Linked DNA regions of Homo sapiens: region 1 is linked to region 2. Evidence: fine-mapped expression QTL. A gene starts in region 2. The other region holds a variant in brackets. All regions are shown on one strand. Distances are between the middles of the regions.

Evidence for each region. PIP is the estimated chance that this variant, and not a neighbour inherited with it, causes the effect.
Region 1: its variant is fine-mapped to the expression of EEF1AKMT2 in hippocampus (GTEx, PIP above 0.99).

Annotation. Positions count from the first base shown.
Region 1 is chr10:125,046,829-125,055,280 of GRCh38, forward strand. All of the region lies in intron 2 of CTBP2 (C-terminal binding protein 2), which reads right to left. Among named protein-coding and RNA genes, the nearest start is that of MIR4296, 18 kb to the left of the region's middle. RefSeq lists enhancers at 1,162-1,745, 4,944-5,700. The variant A/G (reference allele first, on the strand shown) is at 3,632.
Region 2 is chr10:124,787,965-124,796,416 of GRCh38, forward strand. It overlaps EEF1AKMT2 (EEF1A lysine methyltransferase 2), which reads right to left and starts at 3,923. Exons shown (of 7, transcript NM_212554.4): 1 at 3,760-3,923; 2 at 2,309-2,374; 3 at 1,079-1,193. The coding sequence starts at 3,869. RefSeq lists enhancers at 3,875-4,599, 4,227-4,536, 4,600-5,322 and a silencer at 4,037-4,096.

The DNA.
Region 1 (8,452 bases), 260 kb after region 2:
GCTGAGTAAATCCTCCCGTTTTGGTTAAGGGTTGTTAGCACACGAAAATACATTTCCTCGTGTTAAATGCAAGACTCCAAAATTCTAAATATTTTCACTTGCTAAAAGCTATAATCAAGAACAGAAGACTTGAGCAGAAAGAATTTGTGATTTTCCTAATTGGTTGTTTGATTTGTGTCATAATGGAAATTAAGTGTTGGTCTTTGTTGCTAAAGAAAATGAGCCATTCTTGTGTTTAGGATTTTCACACAGTTTAAAAGAACTTGTCTTCCAAATATGCCTTAAAAATAAACTGTATATTAGTTTTAATAGTGTTATTTAATAATAAAGGTTAAGCAAAAAAAAAGGGATAAAAGCAAATAAGCAAACAAACTAAATGACACCTCTTATTCCTGTCTGTTTAGACTTGAGGAATCAGGAATGCAGATCAATTTTTCCTTTTCTAGTTTTCTCTTTCCTACTCTGGCATGAAAATTTTGATCTGTAGCCGAGAAGACTGGTTGAACAGATAAAAAAAATTAGTGATCTCAAATTTTAGGCAGACAGAAGTGGTTCCACCAGAAAACTCATCTTTTGTTACATACAGTGTGCAAGAAATGATTCCAGAATGTTTATATCTGAACGTCATGCAGAGAAACTGGGCACACACAATACAATTGGGCACACACAATACATCTGCTGTGTCCAGCATGGTGTAAAAGCACAGGGGACTGATGGCCACTAAGGGTTTTGAACTTGAGGACTTGCAAAGGCAAGAGCCACCAAGCTACACTTCTTGGAGAGAAATATCTGGAGGTTATATGCTAAACCTATGCAAAACTTAATACAATTTATTAGACTATGTATTCAACTGTCAATTGTAACCATATTATAGAACACTGTGTTATATGTATCATATAGTATATAATAAATTATTAATGAGATAATGTTAAACATTGCTGTCTTAATATATGAAATGGGGGAAGATTTAATCCTCCTAACTTTTAATTATTTAGCTTACACTTAACACATGAATTGCCCTTGTATTTAAATATCAAATAAAGGCAATTATAGGAATTAGCTACTTATCAAACAAATTGCAATGATGAGATATGAATTTGTAAAAAAAATCTTCAGGTTAGATTTTTAAGATGTTTGCCTTTGAATTTTGCCTCAGAGAGGCCTGGAATCCTCGACTGATTTTATGGGGCCTCTACTGTCCTTAGGGGAACCCAACTGGCCTTCTGAGATCCCAGCCCACTCATCTCTTGACACCGTAGGGTCCAGAATGCTTGTATAAGGACATGCTCTCTGCAGTCTCTGCTTGCTCTCAAAACCAATGGAAACCCCCACGTGGGCTGACCTTTTCCTGTTGCAGCCCTTCCTGGGAGCTGGCCCAGCCCAAGGGAGGCCTGGTGTCCAGCGATGGGGCCCTTTGGCCAGCAGAGGGCACTGCACACCCTGCATGGCCTTCCAGAGGCTGCAGAGACAGCCATGAGCCACCATCCTCATTTCTATCCCAACTTAAGCTCTACAAGCACCTGGAGAAAATAAGATCAGCTACTCCTAGAAGGGAAGGCCTGGGCCCATGGATGAGATGCTGCATTTCCCCGAAAGTTCCAGATGTGAAAGAGGCAGAAGGTCTCACCGTTCCAGCAGCAGATGCTTCGTTTCTAGGAGCATGATATGCCAGGGGAAAGGGGATGCAGCGCCAGCGCCTACTTGTTTATCTCCCGAGACGCTAGCTGGGGGTCCCACTTTCACAGCGGAGTGACTGGAGGTACAGGCCAAGAAGGAGGGAGGCTCCCTGCCCAGGGTGTGGAGTCCCCGACCCCAGGGAGCCAGGGGCCACCCTGACAAATGATTTTTCCATTACGTCTGCTGACAGCAACCAGTTAGTGTTGAAAATTGGAAACAACTTGGCAGAGACGGAACACACACAGAGAGGACGGTGCTGGGGAGGGGCCGGCTGGGCTGCTCCGCAAATGCCCCTTAGGCTTTCCATTACAAATGACAGCCTCTGGAGCACTATGCACACCTGATCAACAGGCTCAATTTGACTCAACACCAGGATCAGTTTGCTGTGAGACAAGTATGATCTTAAGATATACAACTTTTTTTCCTGGTAGACACTAATTTAGAAAGGAAAGGAGATTTTTCCAACTTTCCCCAGGAATTGATTCTGGCCAGAATGCACATTAATGTGCTCTCTGGCCTCAATTTGCCCGCCTGACCACAGACACACACACACACACACACACACACACACACACACACACACACACGTCCACCTGACCACACACATACACACACAACACCCCTTTCACCAAGTTCTAAGATGCTGGCCACCTCTTCTCCACACTGGCAGGGTACCTGACAGTTTCTGGTTGGAGAAGAATGGGAGGGGCTGGTGTAGCCCACTAATGCCCCACTACGGGAGACAGATGTGCCTAATTCAGTCCCCACCGTCACAGGACACTCTTTCTTACCATCATTTCAAAGTCGCCACAGTTGTCACAGCAGCAGGATACCACTGAGTGATACAGCACATGCTTGGCCTGATTTGGCAGAGGATGCCTTTGGATAGACCCCACACACGTGCGGATCCTGGGGAGCCCCCACCTGAGCTCCGGTGCCACCTCCCCCAGGCAGCGCCTCTCCACCTTCTCTTCATGGCTCTGATGCCACGAATACCTCACAAGCTTGCTCCAAGTCACATTCAGTGGGACTTGCTTTCACTTTCCAGGACGAGGTTCCTCTGTACAACCCACTTCAGTGTGGAACCTTCAGCAAGGAATGAGGGCTACATGGTGGCCAGGGAGAGGTGGAGACCCGCAGGCATGGTCGAAGATGGTGGGAAAGGGGAGTTCAAGCTGGACGGGCAGAGATAAGCTATCAAAGCAAACGCTGGCTGGGCTGCCAAGTGTCCGGAGAGATTATCTCAAAAACAAGCAGGAACGGCTCCCTCCAAAGGGGCCCACCTGCTGAAGGAGTGGGGACCCAGCCTTCCAAGTTCCATGCCAGCCAAGTTATAGAGTCAAACCAAATCAAGACTCTTGAGCCACCCCGCTCCAACTCTTCTGCCCAGCCTGACGTGACCAGGCCAGTGTAGCCACCGCCCCAGTGCACAGCTCAGCTCCCCAAACCCCACGTCTGTGGGGCCAACTGTTTAGGACACCAGTAGTTTGGGCATGCACTGGGATAAAAGTGCTCCAGGCACCTGGGGTGGCCCATCCTTCATTTCAACTAAGGCATCACTCATCATGCAAAGGCTGGCATCCAGGAGAGCCAACTCAGACCTCAGGAGTGGAGGATTATGTTTGCTTTATGAGGGCAGATACTCTATGCCTGGGTCCTTACAAGTATACACATTCCATAATGCGTCTCTATCACCAAAAGCCGCTCTGCAGCATCATGGGGCACCGGTACCCTGTCTCCTGCGACAGGTCGTGGAAATGATATGTAGAAATCAGACATCCCTAACTCCAGAAAATCTCTAGATTCAAAGACACCGCTTCCCAGACCTTATCTTTTCAACCTGAGTCATAAAGAGAAAAATCTTAGTCTTATCCACAGTTATTTAACATGAAATAAAATAGCTTGCAGCTATTCATTTTGCTTAACACGGTTTTCACGTGGAAGACGGCTACGT[A/G]ACGGAAACCCAGAGGGATGAAGGCTTTGTTTGGTATCCATGACTGCACCCAAAGGGAGAGCGGGCGTCTCGCAGAGTCTGATGGGGAGGAGGAGGGTGGGACACTCCCGTGTCACACAAATTCATCTTTGCCTATCAAATGCCGGGAAAAGGAAGGGTGGGGGTGCGGCTCACAAGAGTTCTTTTGTTTCTGTTATGGGGTGTCGCTGGGGTTCAGCTGTCTTCTTGAATCATTTCACCTGTTTCACAGTGGCTTCCAGTCCCGGTCTCCAGGTCTCTGACGAGTACACCACCCCATTTTAACACTCATCATAGCTCAGAATGTTCCAGGCTATAGCTAAAATATAAGTTAGTGGAAAGAGGTTGCTGGGGAGGAGTAGACAAGGCTCCTGATGAGAATCTTCTAGAGAACTGCAACCTTGTCATAATGAACTGGGGTCCTCACAGGCCTCCTGCACCAAAGTCCTCTGGAGAGGGAGACATCTGGATGAGGAGGGTGGATGGTGCCCATGAATACAGTCACCTATGTGGAGAATTACAGCTCATCGTGAGCTACCATCAGGGATCCTAATTTTACATGAAATCCCACTGGAGAATTCTTGACAAGGTAATGGCCATTTAAAAATCTGCTCTGAGACATTTTATGGGGATATTGTGCATGTTAGAGCCCAAGCCAGACAAATAAATGGGAAAAAAGGTCCGAGGACTCAGGATACCTGGATCCCAAGTTTATGTCCCCACCCCAGACACCATTCGAAAACGGTACATGGAGACCCTTAGGGAAAGGCAGGTCCCTGGAGGCCCACTCCTCATGTACTTCCTGCCATAGTCATCCAAGCCTGAACATTTATGGTCTTGATGTCAATTAAGTCCCCAAAGCAATTAAAATACCTTTTCAGGCCAGGCATGGTGGCTCACGCCTGTAATCCCAGCACTTTGGGAGGCCAAGGTGGGTGGATCACTTGAGGTCAGGAGTTTGAGACAAGCCTGGCCAACATGGCAAAACCCCATCTCTACTAAAAATACAAAAATTAGCCAGGTGTGGTGGTGGGCACCTGTAATCCCAGCTACTCAGGAGGCTGAGGCAGGAGAATTGCTTGAACCCAGGGGACAGAGCTTGCAGTGAACTGAGATCACGCCACTGCACACTAGCCTGGGCAACAGAGTGAGACTCTGTCTCAAAATAGAAACCAACCAACCAAAAAAAAAAAAAAGAAACCTTTTCAATTAAATGCCCACAGGTCACACACTGACTGTTACAGGTTGAATTATGGACCCCCCTAATTATGTTAAAGTTCTAAGCCCCAGGACCTCAGAATGGAACCTTATTTGAAGATAAGGTCGTTACAGCGGCAATCAAATTAAACAGGTCATTAGAGTGGACTCTAATCCAAGACGAATATTCTCATAAAAAGGAGGACAGTTGGACACTTAGACACAGACAGGGGGAAGACGACGTGAAGATGGCATCTAAAAGCTACGGAGACAGGGCTTCTCTCAAATCCTTGGAAGGAAGCACCCCTGCGGATGCCTTATCTCAGACTTCCAGCCTCTAGAACTCTGAGAAAACACATCTCTGTCCTGGCCTGTCTGTGGAACCTTCTTTCAGCAACCCGAGCACGCCAACACATGCCAACAGACGGGAGGCTCGCACCTATCGGTGGGGGTCTGCGCTGCTGAGACCTGCAAGCTCAGGACCCCCCGGCAGGAAGCCTGGTTGTGATGCAGGGGCAGCAATCTGTGCAGAATCCTGGCTTTATTAAAAAGCTCCAAGTCAACCCAAGCCTGCTTTATGGGGAGAGGCAACCTTCACCCTCCAATCTCGCCCCAGACAGCTCAACACGCACGGCCTGAGGTGTGCCCGTGGCCATTTCCCAGCAGTGGTCAGAGGGGCTGCAGGTCCCAGAGCTGACCCCCACAACACGCAGGGAGCAGCCTCCTGAGAGGCTCAGACCTGTGTTCGCCAGGGGAGAGACCCAGGAGGGAATGTTCTAACCTTATTTCCCTTAAGCTGTTTTCTGTGCTCCATGTCTGGGATTTCATTGTTTGGACCGTCCTGCCTTTGTGTTGTCTGTGTTAACAACACCCAGAAGATTCCATCAGCCTCATGCCAGGGTTGGGAGATCAAAGAAAGGTGATCCCCACACGGCCCACAGAGGAGGGAAGAACCTATCAAGAACGCCCTTGGGGTCCAGCAGCAAACGGATGGTGATTGTGCCTTTGAATGCCTCAGTCCGGGCTTTGTGTATCATAGTGTGGGCTCCAGCAGGAATCTGGGGTCCACAATCACAGGCACCATCGGTTCCTGCTTGGCGGCAGCCCCAACACATTCCCATGGGAGCCCAGACGGAGCGCCCACTGGATCTCAGGCTGGAATTGGGCGCTTGGATCAACTCCATTCATATGGCTTTGGGACAGCCACGTGCATCTCCACACTTCCCAAGTTCATGGGAAATTTTGAGAAAAACTTTTCTGACTGTCAAAGCATTCTCTCCGGTCCATTCTCAAATTCTTCCCCCAGAATGAAGTTTATGAATACGCATCACGCAGCATGCAGCCGCTGACCCCAAGTGTACTTATTTCTTCAAAACACAGAACTTTAGGAGTACAAAAGGCTTATTCGAAGAGAGAGAAAAAAAAAGAAAACAAAACCCCACACAACTTCCAGGATAATTCAAGCATGAATCCACGGGGCCACCGAAGCCAAGGCTGCCCCTCAGGGCAGGTGCAGCATTCTCCCAGGTTTCTGGAGTACGACTGGGGGTTCATCTCTGGAGGGCCGGGGCTCCCTCACCTCCAGGAAGGATCCAGTGCATTGTCAACACAAAGGACATGGGAGCAGGAGGAGCCCACTGAAAATGACCCGCCACTCTATCTTTTGAATGGCAACCTCACTGCCCGCCGAACAGAGAGCAAGAGGACACAGTGAAAGGTCTTTTGCAGTCCAGATTCTTGCAGCCCCTCCTGGCATCCCCCAACACAGCAGTGCAAGGAAGGCCCTCTGTCCTCTCCAGGCCCCTCCCAGAGGTTCTCCCAGGGAGGACACCCAGGGATGAGTGGCTCCTGGGCTCAGCCTGCTCCACTCCCAAGGCCCTTGGGAAATCAACAGGCTCAGCTCAAGAGAGGCAGAGAAGGGGTGAGGCTAATAGGTTTTGGTTTTTGGAAGGTCTGAGGTTAGACCCTCTGGGCTTCAGAGACAGCACTTCAGATGATGCCGGGGTGAACATCTCAGACACGCTCCTGAAGATGGGAGGGGAGATCTCAGCCCAGAGCCGAAGGTGTAGACGGGTCTGATGAGTGGGAAGACAGGAAGGGAAATGGGAACTTCACTTGGAAAAGGAGAGATGCCACATAGTTCCGAAGGGCAGGGCACTGGCCACAGACTGCCCTTCATGCCCAGCTCCACAAGAAACCAGGGACCCGGCAGAGGATCAGATTCCACACAGGGACCCTCACTGAGGTTGCACACACATTATCTCAGTGACCTTTCCAGCCCCTACAGGACTTCTGGGGAATCCGAAGCCGGATAGCTCTGCACAGCCACCCACCGGTGACACAGGCGTGCCCACAAAACAGTAGAGGGCCATGAATTGAGGGCCATGGAGGCTTTTCTGAATCACTGCCCCTCCCCAGAGGCCCACTGAGAGCTTTCCAAGCTGAACATGACCCTCTCCCTGAATAAGGCAGATCCCATCTACACTGTGGATGCCAGAAAAAGAATCAATCCCATGGCCCCCGGGGACCCCCAACCTTTTGGAATTCATGTCCTTGTACAAGCTCTGCTTCTAAACAAACAGTAAACAGTATACACAGGTGAGGGGATGTCACTTCTGAGATTAGGTTAAAAGAGACTGTGGCTACCAGTGTGGGCATCCTCCCATCTTCCCTGCCAACTTCCCTCCCTCCCAGAGGCCAGCTGCCATGCCAGCTGCCCTAAGGAGAGACCCACGGAACAGGAAACCAAGGCCCTCAGTCCCAACAGTCCATGAGAAGCTGAACCCTCCCCGAGCCGGGCCTTCAGATGAGACCACAACCCCACTGACATCCTGAATGCAACATTGTCAGGGCCCTAGCAGGAGGCACCAAGCTAAGCTGTGCAGGTTCCTGTCCCATAGACAGTGCAAGACAATAAAGTTTTGTTGTTTTAAGCCTTTACATTTTGAGGTAATTTGTCACACAGCAATAGATAACTAATACAACCCTTTACACAAACTATCACACTGACTATGGTCACTGACACAGTACAGTTCAACAGAAAAGATAAAAACAGTAATACATTTGTAATGCATGGCGTCTAGTTTATACTACCTACAGGACAGAGAACACTAACAAAAAACAAGCGAAACCCTCTAAATCCTCCGCTGCCCAGACTGACATGAGGTCTGTGATATATCCACTTCTGTAAACTCTTGGGGTAAACGCTATTCTCCTCACAACAGCAATGCGTACAAGCTGAAGGAACGGAAAGTCTGCTGTTATGTTCACTTACCCCAGATGCTTAAAATAAATTCCAGGGCTACGCTCAACATGCACAGAGTTAACTCAGGCACCCTGGGGTCTCCACTCTGACTCACGCACACCCATAAATCTGGGGAACATTAAAAAGATCTATCAGAGCCTGGGCCCCACATTAAGAATGCAGCCTCCTAGACCCCCCTCTGAATGGTAATTCACTGGGTAAACAGACCTTCTTGCTTTTTCTTAAAAGTGGTCCTTGAACTGCAGCTACGATTAAGTCTGAGCTCTCAGAGAAAAAGAGCATGTAGGTAAATATTGAAGGCAGTCTGCACAGAGGTTCAGGGCACAAACACAGCCGCTTCT
Region 2 (8,452 bases):
TAAAAACATTTTAACAATTCCCCATAGCCTAAATGCAAAATCGAAGGTCTTAAGCATGGCAAAGCATAATATGGTTCCTATCTTTAACTTAATCCTCATGTCTGTCCATCCCCACGTATACTTTGTATTTCAATTTATCAAATTATTTACAGGCCCAGAACATAAAATACTGCTTCAGCCTTCAGGCCTTTAGATAATATTTCCATTAGTTGAAATCTTCTCCCTCTTTACACGCCACTAGGTCACCAAACTGTCCCTGAAATTTCCACCCAACTTGGATATTTACTCCTCCAAGATGCTTCCCTACCCCTCCACTCCAAAATTAATCACCCTCTTTTCTATATTCAGTGTATTACTGCATGCATCAAGTGATGGCACAACTGTCCATATGTCAGTCCATACTCTATTGTAATGTAAACAATTCAAGCACAAAGTCTAAATTTTCCTGTTGCCAATGCCAAACATGAGGCTTGGCATGTGGTGGTTACTTAACAAATTTCACTCTTATGTTTATTTCTGTACTAATTAAGACTGTAAAATTATCTAGGATGAAGCCTAAGTCTTATAATTCCTCCACAGCACACAGCATAGCAAGAGCACACTGCAGGCATACAACAGTGATGGTTTAGCTAGCAGTGGAATGTTTACCGAAACACAGTTCCATGGACAAAATGCACTTTTCAAACCATATGCTTACCTATAAGATAAGATACGTATGTCCTACTGGAATTGCAAAAGGTCATCTTTATATATATATATATATATGCATTTCTAGAGTTTTGAGCTACAAGAAACCAATAGCAATCACCTAGTCACAACCCTTAGGAAAGAACAGAAGCCTAGAAAAATTAAGTGGCTTACTCAAGGTTAAGACTATAGCCAAAAGAGTCAAGACTAGGACTCAGATTGCCTAGGTTCTCTCACAATCCATGTAGCCTCCCTTTTGTACTATCTGACTTCTCCAAGTATGACTGCTTTACTATTTTATATTTAGATGGTTAATATCCTCAATTGCAGGGCCTTTAAAAATTTTCCTTTTAAAATTTGTCTTTAACAAACAAATACTAAAAGTACCAACAAGTTCAACCAGGAAAACACCATTTCCAGTTCCAATATCAAGCACTGAAGCATCCAGTGGAATCTTGTGTTTCTGCATCCACCTTATTAGTCGATTCATACTCTCTTCTCCAAACCTGTTAGAGAGAATCAGTCAAATAACTGAGGGATACAGAGCAAAAGTCACCACTATATTCCATTTAAGCTATTTATACCATATGCTCAAACTCTTATTTGAAAGTGAAAACATCTGTGACTGCTTCAGCTTTGTCTCTACTGTAATTTAGGAGAAACCACCTCCAGGAATACAACAGAATAGACAAGGTCAGTATGTTATTTACTAACATTTCTCTATATCAGCATTAACAGTTGTATGTGTTGGTGTCTCAGAATTTTATTGTTTATTGACAAAGGACAACTATAGGGTGAAATGCTGTCATCAAACGTAAATGTGAGATATTAAAAGAGGGCTCACACCCATTCTCCCAACACTTTGGAAGGCCACGGTGGGAGGACTGCTTGAGGCCAGGAGTTCGAGACCACCCTGGGTAACACAGTGAGACCCTGTCTCTACAAAAAAGAAAATTTGCTGGGCATGATGGCATGCAGCTATAGTCCCAGCTACCCAGGAGGCTGTGGCGGGAGGATCACCTGGGCCCAGGAGGTCCAGGATGTAACGAGTTATGATGATCATGCCACTGTACTCCAGCCTGGATGACAGAATGACACCCCACCTCTCTAAAAAAAAAAAAAAAGTAAAAAATTAAAAAAGAATAAAAGAAGAGACATACTTTAAATCTACCCACTAAAGCCAGACTTAATCCAGGGTTCCCAGGATTTTTAGGCTTTCTTTGGGTATAAGCACTTGAATATATGCATTTTTTTTTTTGAGATGGAGTCTCACTCTGTCGCCCAGGATGGAGTGCAGTGGCGCGATCTCAGCTCACTGCAATCTCCGCCTCCCAGGTTCAAATGATTCCCCTGCCTCGGCCTCCCAAGTAGCTGGGACTACAGGCGCGCGCCACCATGCCTGGCTAATTTTTTGTCTAATTTTCGTAGAGACAGGGTTTCACCATGTCGGCCAGGATGGTCTCTATCTCCTGACCTCGTGATCTGCCTGCCTCGGCCTCCCAAAGTGCTGGGATTACAGGCGTAAGCCACCGCGCCCGGCGAATATATACGTATTTTTTTAAACACACACACATATACATATAATCTTCTAGATTATAACTTGATTCTTTTCCTAACTCACCAGATTTCACCTGTATCTCCATATTCTCGGAAAGTTTGCAGTTCTCTCTCATAGACAGCATCCCAACTATGTAAACAATGAAATGCAAAGCAAGACTCTTGAATTAAACTGTATTATGAATTAAATGTATGTTTCTAATACATTACAGAGCTATTTATGACAGAGGTTTAAACATCACTAGTGTTATTAATAAATACACATAGTTCAATCTTTTAACGTCCTTGAGTTAAAAGAAGGAAATACATGGGCAAGCAGAATACGTTTATACTGTACATGTAAAGCATTTAGGACAATATCTGATGCACAACAATAAGTTTTAGCCTAAAAAAACACAAAGACATTTGTCCACGTATCCCTAAGTCCCTGACCCAAGTTCAAAACTTGATGAAACAAGCACATCTGGTCTCAAGTGTGCAGGCACACAGTCTCTTTCCTGTGCTATTTGTCTCTGCCTATTCCAGTCTTCTAGCCCTCCGTTTAAATTTTCTCTGGACGCTTTTCTTCTTTTTTTGAGACGGAGTCACGCTCTGTCACCAGGCTGGAGTGCAGTGGCGCGATCTCGGCTCACTGCAACCTCCGCCTCCCGGGTTCAAGCGATTCTCCTGCCTCAGCCTCCCGAGTAGCTGGGACTACAGGTGTGCGCCACCACACCCCGCTAATTTTTGTATTTTTAGTAGAGACGGGGTTTCACCATGTTGGTCAGGCTGGTCTCGATCTCCTGACCTTGTGCTCCGCCCGCCTCGGCCTCCCAAAGTGCTGGGATTACAGGCGTAAGCCACCACGCACCCGGCCCTCTGAATCCTTTTCATTTGCCGTCTCTTTTCCTACAATGATTCTCTAGAATCCCTGCTCCCTCTCATCCCGCCAATTTACCTCTCCCCAACTGTTCCCTGCAGCCATTCATCCACCCACATTAATTCATTTAATAATTCCTGAGCGTCTGTTTGAGGTCAGATCGCTTTCTTTCACCCCAAGATCCCCCACTATCTCCCCGCTCCCGCCTCGGGTCATCCGCTATTCCCACCCCACTTCCAGCTCCCACATCCCTCCCCTCCTACTCAGCCTTTTCGGCTCCCAGGCCCAGCACTTCTCCCTCGGTCTCTCACTCTCGCCGACCAGCCCTATTCGCCAGCCTCGCCCTCTCCCCCTTTCCCCCAAGCCTGGCCCTCAGGTTCGAGACTCCCAAAAGGCCTCCCAGGAGCCAAAGCCTGTCCCGCACCCACAAGCCCCTTGGGCTCCAATCCCTTGAAACGTCGGTTAACCGCGTAGGGCGACCCCTAGGGATTCCACTCTTTGAAATCCCCGTAAGCCCCCCGCCAGGTGGCCCTGCTCCCGTCACGCCCCCGAGGGTCTCCCTGTCCCTGAGCCCCGGGTCTCCACCCCGCCGTCCCCTTCTCGGGGCCCAGGCAGGGCGGCACGGCTCATCCTCCCCTGCCCAGCGTCACACTCACTGCTCGCGGGTCCCCAGCGCCGACGGGACGAAACCGTCCTCCCCGGGACTGCCCTTGTCCGACCGCGCCGCCACCGCAGCGCCACCGCCGCCGTCAGCGCCCGAGCTCATTTCGCTCCACGTCCTGGACGGCCGTTGGGGCCGCCATAGAGACGGGGCACAGGCAGAGCGGACGAGCGGACCGGCGCCTCTAGGCGGCGGGAGGCCGCCCTCTCGACTGCTCCAGCCCCCGCGCTGGGGCTGGGATGGGGACGCGACGCCCTCTGCTCTACCCCCGGCTCCCTGCGCCGGCGGGGACCGTGCGCTCTCCCCACAGCGTTAGTGGCATCCCCTTCGTCGAGGTCCAAGAGCGGCTGTATTTGGGGACTGCTGTTCGTGAGGGACCATTAGAGGTATTGCATTTTGGAAAACGGCTGGCTTCCGCACCGTGGACACCTAAAGCCGACGCCGCTCTACCCAAACGCAGAAATCACTTCACCTCTCCACTGCGTGCGCCTGTCTGCGAAGCGGGTGCGAGCGTCCATCCAGTTATTTGGCTCCTTGGCAAGAGGCCAACTTCGTTTCTGGCTAAGATTCTGACTTGAAAACCGCGTTCTGGCCTCTTGTGACTTGATGTCACCGGTAGACGTGGAAATTTATGTCCAGGGAAAGGAATGCCCTGCAACTCTCCACAATACGCCAAACACGGGGATCAGTGTGTTGTGGAAGAAAGACTGCTAAGTGAGAGGATGCCCGGATAAGCCTCAGCTCTGCCTCGACCCAGGCACCTGGCCTTGCTTAAGTTTGTTTTGTTTTGTTTTGTTTTGTTTTGTTTTTTGAGACGAAGTTTCGCTCTTGTCGCCCAGGCTGGAGTGCAATGCAATGGCGCGATCTCGGCTCACCGCAACCTCCGCCTCCCGGGTTCAAGCGATTCTCCTGCCTCAACTTCCCGAGTAACTGGATTACAGGCGGGCGCCACCACGCCAGGCTAATTTTGTTTTGTTTTGTTTTTTAGACGTAGTCTCGCTCTGTCGCCCAGGCTGGAGTGCAGTGGCTCGATCTCGGCTCGCTGCAAGCTCCGCCTCCCGGGCTCACGCCATTCTCCTGCCTAAGCCTCCGGAGTAGCTGGGACTACAGGCGCCCACCACCACGCCCGGATAATTTTTTGTATTTTTTTTAGTGGAGACGGTGTTTCACCGTGTTAGCCAGGATGGTCTCGATCTCCTGACCTCGTGATCCACCCGCCTCGGCCTCCCAAAGTGCTGGGATTACAGGCGTGAGCCACCGCGCCCGGCCTAATTTTGTATTTTTAGTAGAGACGGGGTTCCTTCATGTTGGTCAGGCTGGTCTCGAAGTCCCGACCTCAAGTGATCCTCCCGCCTCAGCCTCCCAAAGTGCAGGGATTACAGGCGTGAGCCACCGCGCCTGGCCTCTTGTCTAAGTCTTAACCTCTGTGTGTTTCCTCCCTGTACCATGTCAGAACTAGACGGTGTCTTTGTTCCACAAAACTGCTCCCAACCCGCGAACCGGAGATTGCATCTGCCTCTGGGTCTGAGTGCCATTGGTAGATCTGCAGTATAATACAAGAGATCTTATGGGCCAAAGTCTGGGGTATTTTCTGTAGTAGCTGTGAAATACTGCTGGTCCTATGTCCTAGGCAAGGCCCTCAAATGCCCCTAGCGAGACTGCCTTCCAACCAAAAGGAATTGTTTGCTAGGCCACGTTTCTGTTGTCTTGGCAGACAGAAGCCCAGTAACAAGTCCCTAAAGATAAAATAGCATCAGAAATCCTTCCTAGGATCGGATGCGCATCTCCTATAGATGCTGTTCTGAGATCTTCAGGCAGCCACTAGTGATAGGGTAAGATAAAAGGCAGACAGGAGGCCGGACACGGTGGCTCACGCCTGTAATCCCAGCACTTTGGGAGGCCAAGGCAGGCAGATCACGAGGTCAGGAGATAGAGACCATCCTGGCCAAAATGGTGAAATCCTGTCTCTACTAAAATACAAAAAATTAGCCAGGCATGGTGGCGCGCGCCTGTAGTCCCAGCTACTTGGGAGGCTGAGGCAGGGGAATCATTTGAACCTGGGAGGCGGAGATTGCAGTGAGCCGAGATTGCGCCACTGCACTCCAGCCTGGCAACAGAGTGAGACTCTGTCTCCAATAATAAAAAAAAAAAAAGGCAGATGGAAATCCTTGTGCGTAATGATTAAAGTAAAGGCCGGGCGCAGTGGCTCAAGCCTGTAATCCCAGCACTTTGGGAGGCCGAGGCAGGCGGATCACCTGAGGTCAGGAGTTCGAGACCAGTCTGGCCAACATGGCGAAACCCCATCTCTACTAAAAAGACAAAAATTAGCCAGGCATGGTGGCAGTCGCCTGTAATCCCAGTTACTCAGAAGGCTGAGGCACGAGAATTGTTTGAACCAGGGAGGCGAAGGTTGCAGTGAGCCAAGACTGCACCACTGCACTCCAGCCTGGGCGACAGAGTGAAACTTTGTCTCAAAAATAAATAAATAAATAAAATAAAATAAAATTCAAGAAAGAACTTAGGTAACCTTATTACAGAGCAATAAAACCACCGGATGACCCGGCCAATTAGTGCTGCCCTGGGCAAGCGGTTGTTTTGATCTTTTCTAGGTTCTAGATGCTAGAGAAAGCAAGCTTGAGTGGGGCTGAGTGAGGCTTTAAAAGTTTTAGGTCAGCCGGGTGCGGTGGCTCACGCCTGTAATCCCAGCACTTTGGGAGGCCGAGGCGGGCGGATCACAAGGTCAGGAGAACAAGACCATCCTGGCTAACACGGTGAAACCCCGTCTCCACTAAAAATAAAAAAAAAATTAGCTGGGCGTGGTGGCGGGCTCCTGTACTCCCAGCTACTTGGTGGCTGAGGCAGGAGAATGGCGTGAAACCGGAAGGCGGAGCTTGCAGTGAGCCGGGATCCCGCCACTGCACTCCAGTCTGGCCAACAGAGCGAGAAACGGTAATCCCAGCTACTCAGGAGGCTGAAGCAGGAGAATCGCTTGAACCCTGGAGGTGGAGGTTGCAGTGAGCTGAGATCGTGCCACTGCACTCCAGCCTGAGTGACAGAATGAGACTCTATCTCAAAAATAAATACATAAAATAAAATATAAAATAAAAGGGGCCTACTTCATTAGGTATTAAATCTGTTCTCTGGCAAAAAAAATTAATGAAATAAAATCGGCCTACATCAGAGTGTTGTTAGGAAGATTAGATAAGTTCATAGACCGTGCATGTACAGAGTGTAGAACAGAGCCTGATACAGTCTGTTCAGTAGATATTAATTATCATTCTTATTGTTAGTGACTTCTTTTGTTAATTTTTTAAAATTATTTTTTAAAGTTTTTGTGGGGCCGGGCGCAGTGGCTTATGCCTGTAATCCCAGCACTTTGGGAGGCCGAGGCAGGAGGATCATGAGCTCAGGAGTTCGAGACCAGCCTGACCAACATGGTGAAACCTCGTCTCTACTAAAAATACAAAAATTAGCTGGGCATGGTGACGTAATCCCAGCTACTCAGGAGGCTGAGGCAGGAGAATTCTCTTGAACCCGGGAGGCGGAGCTTGCAGTGTGCCGAGATCGCGCTACTGCACTCCAGCCTGGGCGACAGAGTGAGTCTCCGTCTCAAAAATAAATAAATAAATAAAATAAAATGTTTGTGGGTACATAGGTGTATATATTTATGGGGTATATGAGATGTTTTGATACGGGCATGCAATATGAAATAAGCACGTTGGAGAAAGGGGTATCCATCCCCTCAAGCATTTATCCTTTGAGTTACAAACAATACAATTACATTCTTTAAGTTATTGTAAAATATACAATGAAGTTATTATTGTCTATAGGCACCCTATTGTGCTATCAAATAGTAGGTCTTATTCATTTTTTTTTTTTTTTTTTTTTTTTTTTTTTTTTTTTTTTTTACCCAGCCTCTGGTAACCATCCTTCTACTTTGTATGTCCATGAGTTCAATTGATTTGATTTTTAGATCCCACAAGTAAGTGAGGACATGTGATGTTTGTCTCTGTGCCTGGCTTATGTCACTTAACGTAATGATCTGCAGTTCCATCCACGTTGTTGCAAATGATCATGTTTCTGTTGTCTTGGCAGACAGACAACATTGGCCCTCATTCTTTTTTGTGTACTCCCTTGTGTCTATGTGCTACTTTTGCTTTATCCATTCATCTGTTGTTAGACACTCAGGTTGCTTCCAAACCTTAGCTACTGTAAACACTGCTGCAACAAACATGGGTGTGCAGTTATCCCTTCAATGTACTGATTTCCTTTCTTTGGGGTATATACCCAGCAGTGGGATTACTGGATCATATGGTAGTTCAATTTTTACTCTTTTGAGGAAACTCCAAACTGTTCTCCATTATGATTTTACTAATTTCCATTCCTACCAACAGTGTACAAGGGTTGCCTTTTTTCCACGTTCTCGCCAGTATTTGTGATTGCCTGCCTCTTGGATAGAAGCCATTTTAACTGGAGTGAGATGATATCTCAGTGTAGTTTTGATTTGCATTTCTCTGATGATCAGTGATGTTGAGCACCTTTTCATATGCCTGTGTTAGTGACTTCTGATTCCAACCTCGCTCTCCCTCCAGATTTGTATTTTCTCTTATTTTATTGTATTGCAGCTGCCTGGATGTCCCTTGCTACATTAAACTCAATGTGTTCAACACTGAACTCACTTGCATTAC